Regions from separate parts of the Homo sapiens genome. Here region 1 is linked to region 2. Evidence: fine-mapped expression QTL. Tissue or cell type: whole blood. Region 2 holds a variant in brackets; the other region holds the start of a gene. All regions are shown on one strand. Distances are from middle to middle.

Region 1 (8,135 bases), 21 kb after region 2:
AGGGATGGAAGAGGCCTAGGAGGTACAAACAGCAAGGGGGAAATTCTACAAGGAGAAGACCTTAAGGCCAACGGGGTCACTGAGAACTTTTAAAAAAGGAAATAATCACGTAAAAAGAGTGATCACTGATCAGCGGTCACAAGCTACAAGGAGAGGGCCAAAGGGCAAAAAGACCTGTCACTCACGAGAGGCTTGCCTGAGCCAACCCACGACCCATTCACATTCGGATCTGCTTCCAGACCCACCAACACGGCCCTGCCAAGTTCCCCGGATTACCAAGTCCCAGAGAGGGCCTCCATCACACACACACCCCAGACACAAACCACTGAACTCCGCAGCTCCAAGCCCCTGCCAACCTCCAGCATCCCAAGTCCCCCAGTCACTCACAGTGACCACCTGAGAATTCTCCAGGTCCACATCCCAAGACATCCCCAGATCACTGAATCCAATAGGCCTGCTTCACAGACCTCCAGACCACACAACCACCGAACCCCATCAACCCCACTCTCACTCACCCCATGTGCCCCCATCACTCCCACAGGACCACAATGGCTGACTTCACAGGCCACCCAGTCTCTCTCCCCAAGAGGCCGCCCCTCCAGGGCCTTCAGAGACACACACTATGGGTTCCCCAGTGACCATCCAACAAAGACCCCAGGCGGTAACTCTAGTGGCCCCACAACAGCCTCCAGAAACACCTGACCACAGACTCCACAGACTGGCACAGTATAGACCACTAATCACAGATACCCAAAGGCCACTAACTTATTATTATCTTTTTTAAGATGGAGTCTCACTCTGTCATCAGGCTGGAGTGCAGTGGCAAAATCTCGGTTCACTGCAACCTCTGCCTCCTGGGTTCAAGCAATTCTCCTGCCTCAGCCTCCTGAGTAGGTGGGATTACAGGCGCCCACCACCATGCCCAGCTAATTTTTGTATTTTTAGTAGAGACGGGGTTTCACCATGTTGGCCAGGATGGTGTGGATCTCTTGACCTCCTGATCTGCCTGCCTCAGCCTCCCAAAGTGCTGGGATTACAGGTGTGAGCCACGGTGCCCAGCTAAGGCCACTAACTTCTAACTCCACATTCACCGCAAATGGCAAACAAACTCTTAGGCTCCCCAGGCTTCCCTCTCACTGACACCCACAGGGTCCCCAATTTCTCACCCTCACCCACCCGCACACCCATCACAGACACTTGCACGCATACTTGGCATTGATCCCAAGCCCTCCGATCATTCCTCCTCACAGACCTCACTGCCCACCCCATCAGTCATTCAGTCATCTCTGGTACCCGGTCACTAATACAAACAAGCTCCTTCTCACCTGGTTCCAACACCCTCAAATAACAAAGCCAATGCCAGGGCACGAGCCAATAAAACTGTCCCCCATTCAACGATGTACACTGGACCCTTTATTCCTAATCCTCCACAGGCCCCCAGACACTTACCATTCCTACGTCACACCATAGACCTCACAGGCCAGGCAGAGTTATCCCTACAGGCCCAACTGATGACTGGACCTCAGTGACTCCCACAGGGCTTTTAAATACAGATGCCAGACACCATAATCACCAGCACCCCCAAAGCCCCACTTAAGAATCACCACAGACTGAAACCCCAAACTCTGAGTCCCAAAGGATCCCCACAGAACTCAGATACTCCTGCAGATGAGCTGGGGAGGGGAGGAGAAGGGTGGGGAGCGGGGGAGAAGGGGCTTCAGTCACTCCTGCAGGTGAGGTGGGGAGGGGATGAGAAGGATGGGGGAGGAGAAGGGTAGGGAGGGGAGGAGAAGGGTGGGGAGGGGAGGAGAAGGGGCTTCTGTCCTGGGACGAACACACTGGTCTCCATTCACTCACTTCATCAGGTGCCCAAGTCAGGCGCTCACAGAGCCCCTCCCCTGTAACTGACATTCTGAGGCTTGCGCCACAGACCCCCTAAATTAGACCCCAGTCACTCAATGCCCAGGGATCCCTAATCCCTTATCCCCGGGGCCCCCAAGCATTCGCCCCCATGACACCCCATTCTCTAATCCACTCCATGCTGGAGCATTCACTGACATTCCCACAGGCCCTCCCAAACACCACCTGGAAAGGGATTGTGGGGCTCTGCACAAATGCCGATCCCGCAGGCCCCTCCAATGACGCCAAGTATGACCCCCGTTGTCCACGCACTCACAACTTGCAACAGGTCCACCATTAACTTACATCCAGACTCCCTTGTCACAAATACACAGCGCCATTCCTAATGCTTCCATCATAAGATCCCCAAACACAAGCACAGAAACAAACCCCAGCCACTCGCCAGCATAGGCCACCCCATACTCGCCTCCGCTATTGGAGACAGGGGTTGAAAGAGCAACCACTGTTATTCAGCTGTCAAATAAAACATACAACTGGACAGAGCAAAGAAAGACGGTTCCAAAGGGTTATTGGAAGTGGGGAAAAAAAGACGCGGAAGAGGGTTGGGAAGGGGAAGGAGAACGGGCTTCTGGGAAGAACCGTGAAGCCACGAGACTCACGTGCATCTCTGCAAGGCAAAAAGGGTTTTTCTTTCACAGAGAGGTGTGAACAAGGTTAGCAAAGACCAGGCCTGGCCAAGCGAGGTGGAAGTGCGGGCGACCAGACAGCAGAGCGGGGAAAGCTTGACCCTGAGCCAGCCTGTTCTCAGGCGAGGCTGCGTGTTGGCTCAGGCTGGGGATGGGCCAAAGCTCAAGAAAATGGGGAAAGGAAAGAAGCTTAGCTAAAGTTTGCTTAAGGAGCATTTTGCTCCGACCGCTCGGTGGAGTTCAGCCAGTCACCGATGAGGCAAGCGACGGCAACGTGGCAGGTCTGTGTGAACAAGGGGCATCCTGGAGGCTGACCAAAGTCATATAGGGAACGGGAGATCTTTGCAGTGAGCCATTTGCTGGAACCCAAAAGGGTGGGAAATTCCTCAACCTTCGCTGTTTTCCAGGAGCACAGGGCTCTGGTGAAATCCAACACTGTCACAGCCGGCAGGCTTTCCAGTGAATGGAACCCACACAAGCAAGCCCCTAAGCCCTCCAACGCAGGCCCCCGCAGAAGCCTCATCATTCACCCCGCTGGCCTCCAATGCTCACCCAAAGGCATCCAAATCATTCATCAGCAGAGTCCTAATCGCTGCAGACAAATCCTCCACACGGCCTCCCAGGGGCCCCTCTCCCCTGGGGCCAAGGGCAACCTCGCGTCCCCTTGCCCCGCCCGTGCTGCACCCCAAGTCTACAGCGACCTCCATAGGCCCCCAGTGAATCGCCCAGCTGACCCCAAATCTCCCCCGACACCCACATTCAGCGCCCCGCCGCCGCCCGCCCTACAGCCCCCACCCCACCCTCTGCCTCCCACCCCCGCGCGCCCCCAGAGCCCCCGCCTGAGGCCCGCCTTCCGCGCATGCGCCCAGGCCGGTCCGCAGGCCTTTCTCGCCCCAGCCGGCAGCCAGCTCGTTCGCGCTGGGGTCACCGCGAGCCGGTCCGCAGCGGGGTCACCGCGATCCCCGGCGCAGACACAGAGGCCGCCCCCAGCCCCGCCGCCTCGTGGTCCCGCCCCCGCTGCACGCTCCCTTACCCCTCGGACCTCGCAGGGCCGCGGCGGACACGGCCCGATCGGGGACGTGAACGCGCAGAACTACATTTCCCAGCGTCCCGCTCGCGCTGGAACTACACTTCCCGGGGGGCTCGGCGGTGCACCCGCCGGGGTCGCGGATTGGAGGTTTCCGGTTGGAAAAGCCCCTTGGCGGCTAACTGGGGAGGACTGGAAGAAATCTAGGATGGAGCCAGCACTGCTGGCCCAACATGTCTGTGAGAGAACCTAAAGGCGCCTCCAGGAGGAAGCGTCTGCATCTTTTCCTTGTTTTTTTTTTTTTTTTTTTTGGAGGCAGGGTCTCGCTCTGTCACCCAGTGGGGAGTGCAGTGGTGCCATGAACGCTCATTGCAGCCTCAGGCTGGTCTCCGACTCCTGGGTTCAAATGATCCTCCTGCCCCAGCCTCCCAAAATGCTGGAATTACAGGCATGAGTCACTGCGTCCGGCTGCTTTTCCATTTTTCATCGTAGCTGTAAGTAATATCGGTAAATGTTAGTGTTACGTGCGTCCGTATAGGAGACCACCTGAGCAGGCTAAGTGTGAGCAACACGCCTGTTTATTCACTTGGGTGCAAGTGGGCTGAGTCTGAGAAAGGAGTCAGCGGAGGGTGGTGGGCTTGTCATTGGTTCTTATAGCTTTGGGATAGGATAGGCGGTGGAGTCAGCAGCAATTTTTTTTTTTTTTTTTTTTTTTGAGACAGAGTCTCACTCTGTCGCCGAGGCTGGAGTGCAGTGGCGCGATCTCGGCTCACTGCAAGCTCCGCCTCCCGGGTTCACGCCATTCTCCTGCCTCATCCTCCTGAGTAGCTGGGACTACAGGCACCCGCCACCACGCCCGGCTAATTTTTTTGTATTTTTAGTAGAGACGGGGTTTCACTGTGTTAGCCAGGATGGTCTTGATCTCCTGACCTCGTGATCCGCCCTCCTCGGCCTCCCAAAGTGCTGGGATTACGGGCGTGAGCCACCGCGCCCGGCCTCAGCAGCAATTTTTTGCGGGCAGGGGAGGATGTTACAAAGTACATTCACAAGGGCGGGGAGGGTGTATTGTCACAAGGGCGGAGAGGAATGTTACAAAGTACATTCACAAGGACCGGGAATATTACAAAGTACATTATCACAAGGGTGGGGGAATGTCACGATGGCTTGACCATGGTGCGGCCAGCTCAGAGGACCTTACATTTAGTACATCCAATCCAGCAGTATTGACAAAAGGAATGAAAATAGATGATAGGGTTGGGCGCGGTGGCTCACGGCTGTAATCCCAGCACTTTGGGAGGCTGAGGTGGGCGGATCACCAGGTCAGGAGATTGAGACCATCCTGGCCAACACGGTGAAACCCCGTCTCTACTAAAAATACAGAACATTAGCTGGGCGTGGTGGTGGGCGCCTGTAATCCCATCTACTCGGGAGGCTGAGGCAGGAGAATCACTTGAACTCGGGAGGCGGGGGTTGCGGTGAGCCATCATGCCGCTGCACTCTAGCCTGGCAACAGAGTGAGACCTCATCTCAAGAAAAAAAAAAGGAAAAATAAATGAGATGAGGACATTACAGGGAAATAAAATATATTTATGGATATATAAAGCAGTGGCTTGTCCCTGTAGTCCCAACTACTGGAGGCTGAGGCAGGAGGATTGCCTGAGCCTGGGAGGTTGAGGCTGCAGTGAGCTATGATGGCAACACTGCACTCCAGCCTGGGCCACAGAGGGAGACACCTTCTCTTAAAAATATTTTTTGGCCAGGCCAGGCGCGGTGGCTCACACCTGTAATCCCAGCACTTTGGGAGGCTAAGGCGGGCGGATCACCTGAGGTCAGGAGTTCGAGACCAGCCTGACCAACATGGTGAAACCCCATCTGTACTAAAAATATAAAAATTAGCCAGGTGTGGTGGCTCATGCCTGTAATGGCTCATACCTGTAATCCCACCTACTCAGGAGGTGGAGGCATGAGAATTGCTTGAACCCAGGAGGCAGAGGTTGCAGTGAGCTGAGATCTCACCACTGCACTCCACCCTGGGAGACAGAGTGAGATTCTGTCTAAAAAAAAAAAAAAAGAAAAAGAAAAACTGTAAAAGCATATTAGTTTTTTAAAATAAAAATGGGGAGAAACAGGAAACACACTCACAATTGGCAATTTAAAAAATTGAAATGGCCATAAAGACCAAATTAAAGTATATATGAAATAATATTTTGCTCAATTCTATATTAGTAAATTTGGAGCCTGTGAGAGATGGAGTTTTGCTCTTGTCGCCCAGGCTGGAGTGCAGTGGCACAATATCGGCTCACTGCAGCCTCCGCCTCCTGAGTTCAAGTGATTCTCCTGCCTCAGCCTCCCGAGTAGCTGGGATTGCAGGCGTGCGCCACCACGCCCGGCTAATTTTTGTATTTTTAGTAGAGACGTGGTTTCACCATGTTGGTCAGGCTGATCTTGATCTCTTAACCTCGTGATCCGCCTGCCTCGGCCTCCCGAAGTGCTGGGATTACAGGCGTGAGCCACTGCGCCCAGCCACTCCCAGCTACTTTTTGTATTTTTAGTAGAGATGGGTTTCACCATGTTGGCAAGGCTGGTCTCAAACTCCTGACCTCTGGTGATCCATGCGTCTCGGACTCCCAAAGTGCTGGGATTACAGACCTGAGCCACCGTACCCAGCCCACATTGCCCTGCTTCTAACTGAGATTCAACTTTATTTAAGCAAACCAATTCCATGCTCAACAGAGCTAAAATTAAAATTCTGCTTTAAGGTAGTTTTGTTTTTGTTCTCAGAAAATTTTGCTGTTCACAGATTTATGATTTTCACTTTTCTCCGAGGTTAAGCGTGTCATTTATTAAATGACTTACTAGAATTTATACGCCTTTTTTTTTTTTTTTTTTTTGAGATGGAGTCTTGCTCTGTCACCCAGGCTGGAGTGCAGTGGCGCGATCTCAGTTCACTGCTACCTCTGCCTCCTGGGTTGAAGCAATTCTCCCGCCTCTGCCCCCCGAGTAGCTGGGATTACAGGCACCCACCATCATGCCTGGCTAATTTTTTGTATTTTTGTAGAGACGAGGCTTCACCATGTTGGCCAGGCTGGTGTCGAACTCATGACCTCAGGTGATCCGCCTGTCTTGGCCTCCCAAAGTGCTGGGATTACAGGCATGAGCCACTGAGCATGGCCATGGCCTTTTCTTTCATTCCAATTTTGGTCAGGAAAGAAAACAGTTTCTCTCTCTAAAAAAAAATTCCATGGCTTAAGTAAAACTTGTAAGTTTAAAAAAAAAAAAAACTGGCTAAACTCTTAAGTTCAGTTCATTTGGCACATCTGAAGTCCCATTTTAAATGACCAAAGCCAGTAAAAAAAACTTTGTATAAAGACAGAGATAAGTCTTAAAGATAAGACACTCTTTCTCCCAGCCACAAGATAATTTAGTGACTTAGGTTTTGTGAAACTTTAAGCTCATCGTTCATGACATACGTTGGACCCATAAGACTCCCCTCAACAAAAAAAATACAAAAATCTCCTAGTGCCCTAAGTGCCCAAAATTACTGGGTTTCACCAAGACATCTATTGAAAAGTGACTCTTCAATAAATAATCCTTATTAAGCAGCATACCAGATCCAACAACTCTTTCCCTTTCAGTCTTTGATCTTTAAAACAAAAACCCCAAATTATGGACATTCATCCATCTAAAACTGAGTCTTTCCCCTTCAAAAGAAATACACCTTTAATGGCTGGATGCAGTGCCTCACGCCGGTAATCTCAGTGCTTTGGGAGGCTGAGGTGGGTGGAGCACAAGGTCAGGAGTTCGAGACCAGCCTGTCCAACATGGTGAAACCCCGTCTCTACTAAAAATACAAAAATTAGCTGGGCATGGTGGCCGGCGCCTGTAATCCCAGCTACTTGGGAGTCTGAGGCAAGAGAATTGCTTGAAACAGAAAGGTGGAGGTTGCAGTGAGCTGAAATTGTGCCACCGTATTCCAGTCTGGGCAAAAGAGCGAAACTCCATCTCAAAAAAAAAAATATATATATACCTTTAAGTAACTCCAGCTAAATTCATATATAGTACTTATGATGCGACCTCCTGTCAATATCTTTTAAAATGGTCTTATTTAACCCATAAAGACCCCAAACTACAAAGACCAAAATGAAATGACATTAAAAATACCTTAATTAGTTTATTTACGTGCATAATTTTTAAAAACTGAGTCTAAAATTTTTAAAAAATTGAAAGTTACTTTCAATAATACTAAAAAGCATCTAAAAGAGACTGAAAATTTCTTTCCCTACAGAAAAAATTAAACTCTTTAGAACTATTGATATATTAAAAAAGGAAACTGCCAAAACTTCTCACCCTTCTGCTTCTGCATCTCTTTATCCCTCCTTCTCCAAACTGCCTTGCCAAGACTTGACTTCTTTTTTCCTCCTCCCCATACAATCACTTATCTTTTGTAAATTAATATGTATTAATGTGGAGTCCTAATTAGGGAAAAAGAGACAGGGTAGTGGGAGCAGGGGAAAGCAAAATACGAAATAAGAGAAAGCAGATAAGCTGTAAGTCTGCCTTTC
Region 2 (8,135 bases):
GCAATCTCTCTTTATGGGGAAAAAAATCTTAGGACTAGTTGTTTTAGGAATTTCAGATAATGTCCATCAGGCCTGAGTTACTATACTATAGATGCTACGTGGATAGAGATTTCAGAGAAAGCTGTGAGTCAAGGAACATTCACTGAAGTTGAAGAAAAGAGCTCAAAGTGAAGTCTACCTGGGGAAAATGTACCATAATCAGAGGTACAGATGCAGAGAAAAATTTCAGAAGAGCGTGTGAGGAAGAATCTAGCTCAGATGGAGTTAATAATGACTCTTGAGCACAAATCTAGCTCAAATGGAGTTAATAATGACTCTTGAGCATAGAAAAATAAGTGGAGAGATAAGATGTTCCCATACCATGAGATTCTTCAACAAAAACGGAGATTAAATATCACACAGCAGGTAATGGAGACTTAAACCCACCTGACTATGTGATGGTATGAGAGAGAAGCTTTAGAGAAGTTAAACATCAAATGTACCAGAAAGATGCACTGGGAACTGACTTGAAAATCCTTAGTTTGTACAGAGGAAGGTAAGAAGCAAAATCTCCTTACTATGTTTAAGGTATTAGGGTTTTGTGTGTGTGTGTTTTTGTTTTTAGAGACAGGGTCTCACTCTGTTGCCTAGCACATCCATGGCACACTGCAGCTTCCAGCTCCTTGGGTCAAGCAATCCTCCCACCTCAGCCTCCCAGGTAGCTGGCACTAGAGGTGCACACCACCATATTTGGCTGAATTATTATTATTATTGTTAGGTATTATTAGTAGTAGTAGATATGGGGTCTTGCTTTGTTGCCCAGGTTGGTCTCAAACTCCTGGCCTTAAGTGACTGTCGTGCCCTGCCCTCTCCCCAACCTCCACAGCATGAGGATTACAGTATGAGCTACTGCGCCCAGCCTAGATTTTCACTCTGTATCAGTGGGTTCATCTTCTACTCTCTGTGGTTTTAAAATAGAAATATATCAAATTAGAGGAAGAGAAGAAAAATAATAAATTAAAAGTTTGAAGTTTAAATAAACTCAAAGGCAATCAGTGTTATCTAAAAGAAGAAAAAAATTATGAATTCATAAAGAGAGCCTTAACTAAGAAAGTGGGGTTGTAAATGGCCACCAATCTATGCCACTGAATAAGAGGGATACATTTCATCATAAACTCCATGGAGAAAAGACACATCCCGATGTGGAGACCAGGTTATGGAGCACATCCATTAAAACTCATGTCACCAATCTTGAGTCAACTCTAAAGATTCAGGAACTTTAAACACAGTTTTATAAACAACACTTTAAAAGTGCCCACCTGTCATCAAAAACCTGAGATAAAATGTTCACTGTATCTCATAAACCTGATTATTCCTCACCTGAAAAGTTCTGATTTAGGATTTCTTGACCTATTATCCATGGATCTTGTTGTTCCAGTTTGAACATTGCATCAGGTTTGAGAATTTGAAAACCTGTCGATTGGAAACACAGAGGACTTGGACCTAACTGCCTGGGCTAAGAGTCTTAAATATGTAGAATGTTTTATTATAAAGGCTGCAAAATAAAGCAAGTGAATGAAAATCTTTCAATTCAGTATAAAAGTCAAATAATCTTTGACATGTAAAACTTACATCCAAAATAAACAAACACCTCACAGGCCAGTTACTGGCCATACACTAAGTTACATAAGAATGTTCTTACCCAAGAAAACCAGATTGCTATAGTTCTCCAACATCACATCTCTGTACAAGTTCTTCTGAGTAGGATTAAGTAGCTGCCATTCCTCCAGCGTGAAATCCACAGCCACATCCTCAAATGATATCTGGAAAAGCATAATCCCTGTTAAACCTGAAGTGGTTCTCATTTGGTCTTGTAAAATACTTTCTTCTGTATTTGTGGTAGGTGGCCTCTAAGATGGCCCCAGTGACCTCTGACTCCGGTATTCATGCTTTTGCATAATCCTCCCCTCTTGACCGTGGGCTGGACTCACTGACTCATTGTCCTGAACAGAACAGGGAAACATGATGAGATGCCACTTCCAAGACTAGGTTAGAAAGAAATGCAACTTCTATCCTGGGCACTCTCTCTCTCTGGAGGAGTCTGGCTGCTGTGTTGTAAGGCCGCCATGTGGAAGCTCATGTGCCGTGGAACTGAGGCTTCCCAACAGCCACTGAGTGAGCCTGGAGGAGCCAGCTCCTTCCTCGCTGCAGCCCTTCTCAACACCTTCATCACTGCATCATGTGAGACCCTCAACCAGAACCAACTGGGCAAGTACCTGGCAGATTCCAAAACCCAGAAACAGATCAATGTTTGTTGTTTTCAGCCCTTGAGGTTTGGGGTAATTTGTGACACAATAATGAATAACCAATATAATCTAATATAATAAATATAATAATCTTGCATTATGCCTTGAGGAAGGAATGTTTTAAAAATATTTATCATTGTGAATTCATTCATCCATGTACCTATCCACTGAACAAGAAACCAGAATAGGTTGTCTTTAAACAATACAGTGGTTCTCAAAGAAGGTGCCACTAGTATTTGAGAACCATTCTTAGGTAAGGAATACTGTTCCATGCAGTTGAGCCCTTCAGCATGCCTGGCCTCTGTCTGCTAATGACAGTAATATCTCTCAGTCACTGGCTGGGCACGGTGGCTTATGCCTGTAATCCCAGCACTTTGGGAGGCTGAGGTGGGCGGATCACCTGAGGTCAGGAATTCAAGACCAGCCTGGCCAACATGGTGAAACCCCAACTCTATTAAACACACACACACACACATGCACACACACACAAATTAGCTGGGGGTGGTGGTGGGCACCTGCAATCCCAGCTACCAGGGAGGCTGAGGCAGGAGAATCACTTGAACCTGGGAGGTGGAGGTTGCAGTGAGCCAAGATCGTGCACCTGCATGCAGCCTGGGCAACAGAGCAAGACTCTGTCTCAAATAAATAAATAAATAAATAAACAACAACAAAAACAAAAACACTCTCTTTCCTCTGGGAGTGATTCTGCTCCCAAGTAAGAACTGGCCAGCTATTTTAGGTATCTTCCAAAACACACATATTGAGCAATTAAGATTCCAGGAACCATCTGGGTGTGGTGGCTCACACCTGAAATCTCAGCACTTTGGGAGGCCAAGGCAGGTGGATCACCTGAGGTCAGGAGTTGGAGACCAGCCTGGCCAGCACTGTAAAACCCCATCTCTACCAAAAATACAAAAATTAGCCAAGTGTGGTGGTGTGTGCCTGTAATCCCAGCTACTCGGGAGGCTGAGACAGGAGAATAGCTTGAACCCAGAAGGTAGAGGTTGCAGTGAGCTGAGATTGTGCCGCTGCACTCCAGCCTGGTGACAGAGCAAGATTCC[G/A]TCTAAAAAAAAAAAAAAAAAAAGATTCCAGGAACCATAACAGGTACTAGAAATTTAAAAATGAGTAGAAAAAAATCACATTCTCAAGTACCTTTCAGGCCAGAGTGAATAAGGTTACAGGGCTATGAAGCTAGCATTTACAGAATATAGAGACAAAACGGGGATAAAAACACTGGATTTAACAACACTGGGTTAGGTGCTGTAAAGACAGTAAGGCTTAGAAAGGGTCTTTAGAAAGTCCTGGTTACAGAGGGGGATGAGGAAAAGGACACTCTCAAGGCAGCAGCATGAGCAAAGACATGGAAATAAAGTGTGTTTTCTGAGGGATGAAAGTTCAGGAATATAAGAGAGGGAGTGGGAGCGGTGGGAATGGTCCTGGCCTCTTTAAAAGGGAACGTGGAAACCTAGAGAGGTAAGCAGAGGCCAGCCTTCAGCTGGACTCAAGTAAATTTGAGCATTCCAGTCCCAGCAGCTACAAGGGACACAGGAAAAAGGAGGAAAGCTTAGAATAAGCCCAAGCATAGGGGACTAATAGGTTATTTTCCCTCATAAAGCTGGAACACAAGGAGTACTCCGTGTGTGGGTCAATGAAAAAAAAATCAAAGAAAATCAATTTCTTGCCTCAAATGTTAGTGTTACACAAAGAGGTCAAAAATTGTCCCTGAGAATTATAACAAGCTGGATTTATATGGGTGTGTGGGCTCAACTCCAGTATAGATGTGTTTTGCAAAAACCTTAAGCACAGAGAGTTCTAAAGTGTTTTTGAGGGGGCCATGCATTCAGGCATCCGGCAGAATCAAATGCAAATTCTATTTAGAGAAAGAGATCAAAATAATTCTCACAAATAAAGATTCAAGAAAAATGAGTACAGAGTAAAAGAGAAACCGGAATGCACACATAAAAAAAAAATCATCCAGGTGCGGTGGCTCACGCCTGTAACCCCAGCACTTTGGGAGGCCGAGGCAGGTGGATCACGAGGTAAGGAGATCGAGACCATCCTGGCTAACATGGTGAAACCCCATCTCTACTAAAAATACAAAAAAATTAGCCGGGCATGGTGGTGGGCGCCTGTAGTCCCAGCTACTCGGGAGGCTGAGGCAGGAGAATGGCGTGAACCCGGGAGGCGGAGGTTGCAATGAGCAGAGATCGTACCACTGGACTCCAGCCTGGGTGACAGAGTGAGACTCTGTCTTAAAAAAAAAAAAAAAAAAATTAGCCGGGCGTGGTGGTGGGTGCCTGTAGTCCCAGCTACTCGGGAGGCTGAGGCAGGAGAATGGCGTGAACCCAGGAGGTGGAGCTTGCAGTGAGCCGAGATGGCGCTACTGCACTCCAGCCTGGGCGACAGAGCAAGACTCCATCTCAAAAAAAACCAAAAAAAAACAAACAGGAGTGGTATAAAAGACTTAGGATATTTGAACTGTCAGCACAGAATATAAAATAAATATATTTAATATATTCAAAGAAATGAGAGGTTAATGAAAGTACGAAAAATAATCAGAAGACTATAAAAATGAATAAGCAGATTTGAAAAAAATGAAATATAACTTCTAGAGATAAAATGCATAATAAGTAAAGTTAAGAAGTCAATGGAAGGGCTTAAGAGTAGATTAGGAAAAGATAAAGAGAGAATAAGTGAATTGGAAGATAGACCAGAAGAAATAATAAAGCAAAAGCTCAGAAATGGAAAATATAAAGCAACCCCAGCTACATGCTGCCTACGAAAGAGGCACATTTATATTCAAAATAGTTTAAACATAAAAGGACTCACATTACTTGATTTCAAGACTTCCTATGCAACCACAGTAATTAAGGCAGGATGGCATTTGTGAAAGGATAAAAACACAAGTTAATGGAACAGAACACAGAACTCAAAAATAAGCCCCTACAAATATACTCAATTGTTTCACAAAAGTACAAAAAGCAATTCTACAGTCTTTGTGACAAATAATGTCTCAACAATTTTATACTCATAAGCAAAAGGGATCTCAACACATACCTCACACCTTATATCAAAACTAACTCAAAATGGATCACAGACCTAAACATAAAAAACTATAAAACTTTTAGAAGAAAACCAAAGAAAACCTGTGTGACTTTGGGTTTGGCAATGAGTTAGATACAACACCAAAAGCCTGATCAATTTAAGAAAAAAATTTGATAAATTGGACTTTTTCAAAATTAAGAACTTTTGCTCTGTGAAAGACAATGTTAAGAGAAAGAGAAGGCACGGCACAGACTAAGAGAAAATTATTTGCAAATTACATACTTGCTAAAGCACTCATATCCAGGATATAAAGAACTCTTACTAAGAAAATAACCTCATTTTAAAAATTAACAAGATATCTTGACATTTCACCAAAGAAAATATATGGAAGGTGGCTGGGCGCGGTGGCTCACGCCTGTAATCCCAGCATTTTGGGAGGCCGAGGCAGGCGGATCACCTGAGGTCAGGAGTTCAAGACCAGCCTGGCCAACATGGTGAAACCCCATTTCTACTAAAAATACAAAAATTAGCCAGGCATGGTGACACGCACCTGTAATCCTACCTACTGGGAAGGCTAAGGGAGGATAATTGCTTGAACCCAGGAGGCAGAGGTTGCAGTGAGCCGAGATGGTGCCATTGCACTCCAGCCTGGGCGACAAGAATGAAACTCTGTCTCAAAAAAAAAAAAAAAAAAAAAGAAAATGTATGGATGGAAAGTAAATATATGAAAAGATGTTCAATATATCTGTCAAAAGGTGAATGCAAATTAAAACTATAATGAAAAACTACTATGTACTTATTAGAAGGCTAAAACTAAACACACACACACACAGACACACACACACACACACACCCCTGACAAATATCTGTGAGGACTCAGAGCAAGAGCAACTGTCATTCATTGTGGTGGGAATGTAAAATGTACAGCAGCTTTTGAAAACATTTTGGCAGTTTCTTATAAAGTTGAACACAGACTTACCACACAACGCAGCAATTCCACTCCTAGGTGTTTACTCAAGTAGTGAACTGAAAACTTACATTCACCTGAAAATTTATATTCAAACCTATATGCAGATGAATGCTTTATTCAAAACTGCTAAAAAGTGGAACAATTAAGATGTCCTTCAATAAGTGAATGGATAGAGACTGTGGCCCATCCATACATGGGATCATATTCAAGGGAATCACACGCCAAGAAAAAGGAAGAAACTACCGATAAGATATGAATGAATCTCAAAGGTATGCTAAGTGAGAAAAGCCACTGTCAAAAGGTCACATATGTGATCCCATTTATTTATTTATTTATTATTTATTTGAGAGGGAGTCTCGCTCTGTCGCCCAGGCTGGAGTGCAGTGGCGCGATCTCGGCTCATGGCAAGCCCCGCCTCCTGGGTTCACGCCATTCTCCTGCCTCAGCCTCCCAAGTAGCTGGGACTACAGGCGCCTGCCACTACGCCCGGCTAACTTTTTGTATTTTTAGTAGAGACGGGGTTTCACCCTGTTAGCCTGGATGATCTCAATCTCCTGACCTTGTGATCCACCTGCCTCGGCCTCCCAAAGTGCTGGGATTACAGGCAAGAGCCACTGTGCCAGGCCGATCCCATTTATTTTTTTATTTTTATTTTTTATTTTTTTGAGACAGAATCTCACTCTGTTGCCCAGGCTGGGGTGAAGTGGCACGATCTCGACTCACTGCAACCTCTGCCTCCTGGGTTCTAGCGATTCTCCTGCCTCAGCCTCCCGAGTAGCTGGGATTACAGGCACACGCCACCACACCCTGCTAATTTTTGTATTTTTAGTAGTGACGGGGTTTCTACATGTTGGTCAGGCTGGTCTCGAACTCCCGACCTCAGGTGATTTGCCCGCCTCAGCCTCCCGAAGTGCTGGTGAGAGGTGACAGCGTGCTGGCAGTCCTCAGAGCCCTCGCTTGTTCTCGGCACCTCCCCTGCCTGGGCTCCCACTTTGGTGGCATTTGAGGAGCCCTTCAGTCCCCCACTGCACTGTGGGAGCCCCTTTCTGGGCTGGCCAAGGCTGGAGCCCACTCCCTCAGCTTGCAGGGAGGTGTGGAGGGAGAGGCACGAGCGGGAACCGGGGCTGTGTGCGGCGCTTGCGGGCCAGCTGGAGTTCCGGGTGGGCGTGGGCTTGGTGGGCGCCGCACTCGGAGCAGCCAGCCAGCCCTGCTGGCCCCGGGCAATGGGGGACTTAGCACCCGGGCCAGTGGCTGCGGAGGGTGTACTGGGTCCCCCAGCAGTGCTGGCCCACCGGCGCTGCGCTCGATTTCTCACCGAGCCTTAGCTGCCTCCCCGCGGGGCAGGGCTGGGCACCTGCAGCCCACCATGCCTGAGCCTCCCACCCACTCCATGGGCTCCCATGCGGCCCCAGCCTCCCTGACGAGCACCACCCCCTGCTCCACGGCGCCCAGTCCCATCGACCACCCAAGGGCTGAGGAATGCGAGCGCACAGCGCAGGACTGGCAGGCAGCTCCACCTGCAGCCCCGGTGCGGGATCCACTAGGTGAAGCCAGCTGGGCTCCTGAGTCTGGTGGGGACGTGGAGAGTCTTTATATCTAGCTCAGGGATTGTAAATACACCAATCAGCACCCTGTGTTTAGCTCAAGGTTTGTGAGTGCACCAATCAACACTCTGTATCTAGCTGCTGGTGAGGACATGGAGAACCTTTATGTCTAGCTCAAGGATTGTAAATACACCAATCGGCACTCTGTATCTAGCTCAAGGTTTGTAAACACACCAATCAGCACCCTGTGTTTTGCTCAAGGTTTGTGAATGCACCAATTGACACTCTGTA

What was found. PIP is the estimated chance that this variant, and not a neighbour inherited with it, causes the effect.
Region 1: it holds the start of ZNF605, and the variant in region 2 is fine-mapped to the expression of ZNF605 in whole blood (INTERVAL, PIP above 0.99).

What each region holds. Positions count from the first base shown.
Region 1 is chr12:132,952,664-132,960,798 of GRCh38, forward strand. It overlaps ZNF605 (zinc finger protein 605), which reads right to left and starts at 3,643. Exons shown (of 5, transcript NM_183238.4): 1 at 3,580-3,643. It overlaps LOC124903064 (a long non-coding RNA gene), which reads left to right and starts at 3,886. Exons shown (of 2, transcript XR_007063552.1): 1 at 3,886-4,067. RefSeq lists enhancers at 2,361-3,191, 2,620-2,914, 3,192-4,020, 3,774-3,853 and a silencer at 3,274-3,613.
Region 2 is chr12:132,931,354-132,939,488 of GRCh38, forward strand. It overlaps ZNF605 (zinc finger protein 605), which reads right to left. Exons shown (of 5, transcript NM_183238.4): 4 at 1,682-1,802. Among named protein-coding and RNA genes, the nearest start is that of ZNF605, 21 kb to the right of the region's middle. The variant G/A (reference allele first, on the strand shown) is at 3,347.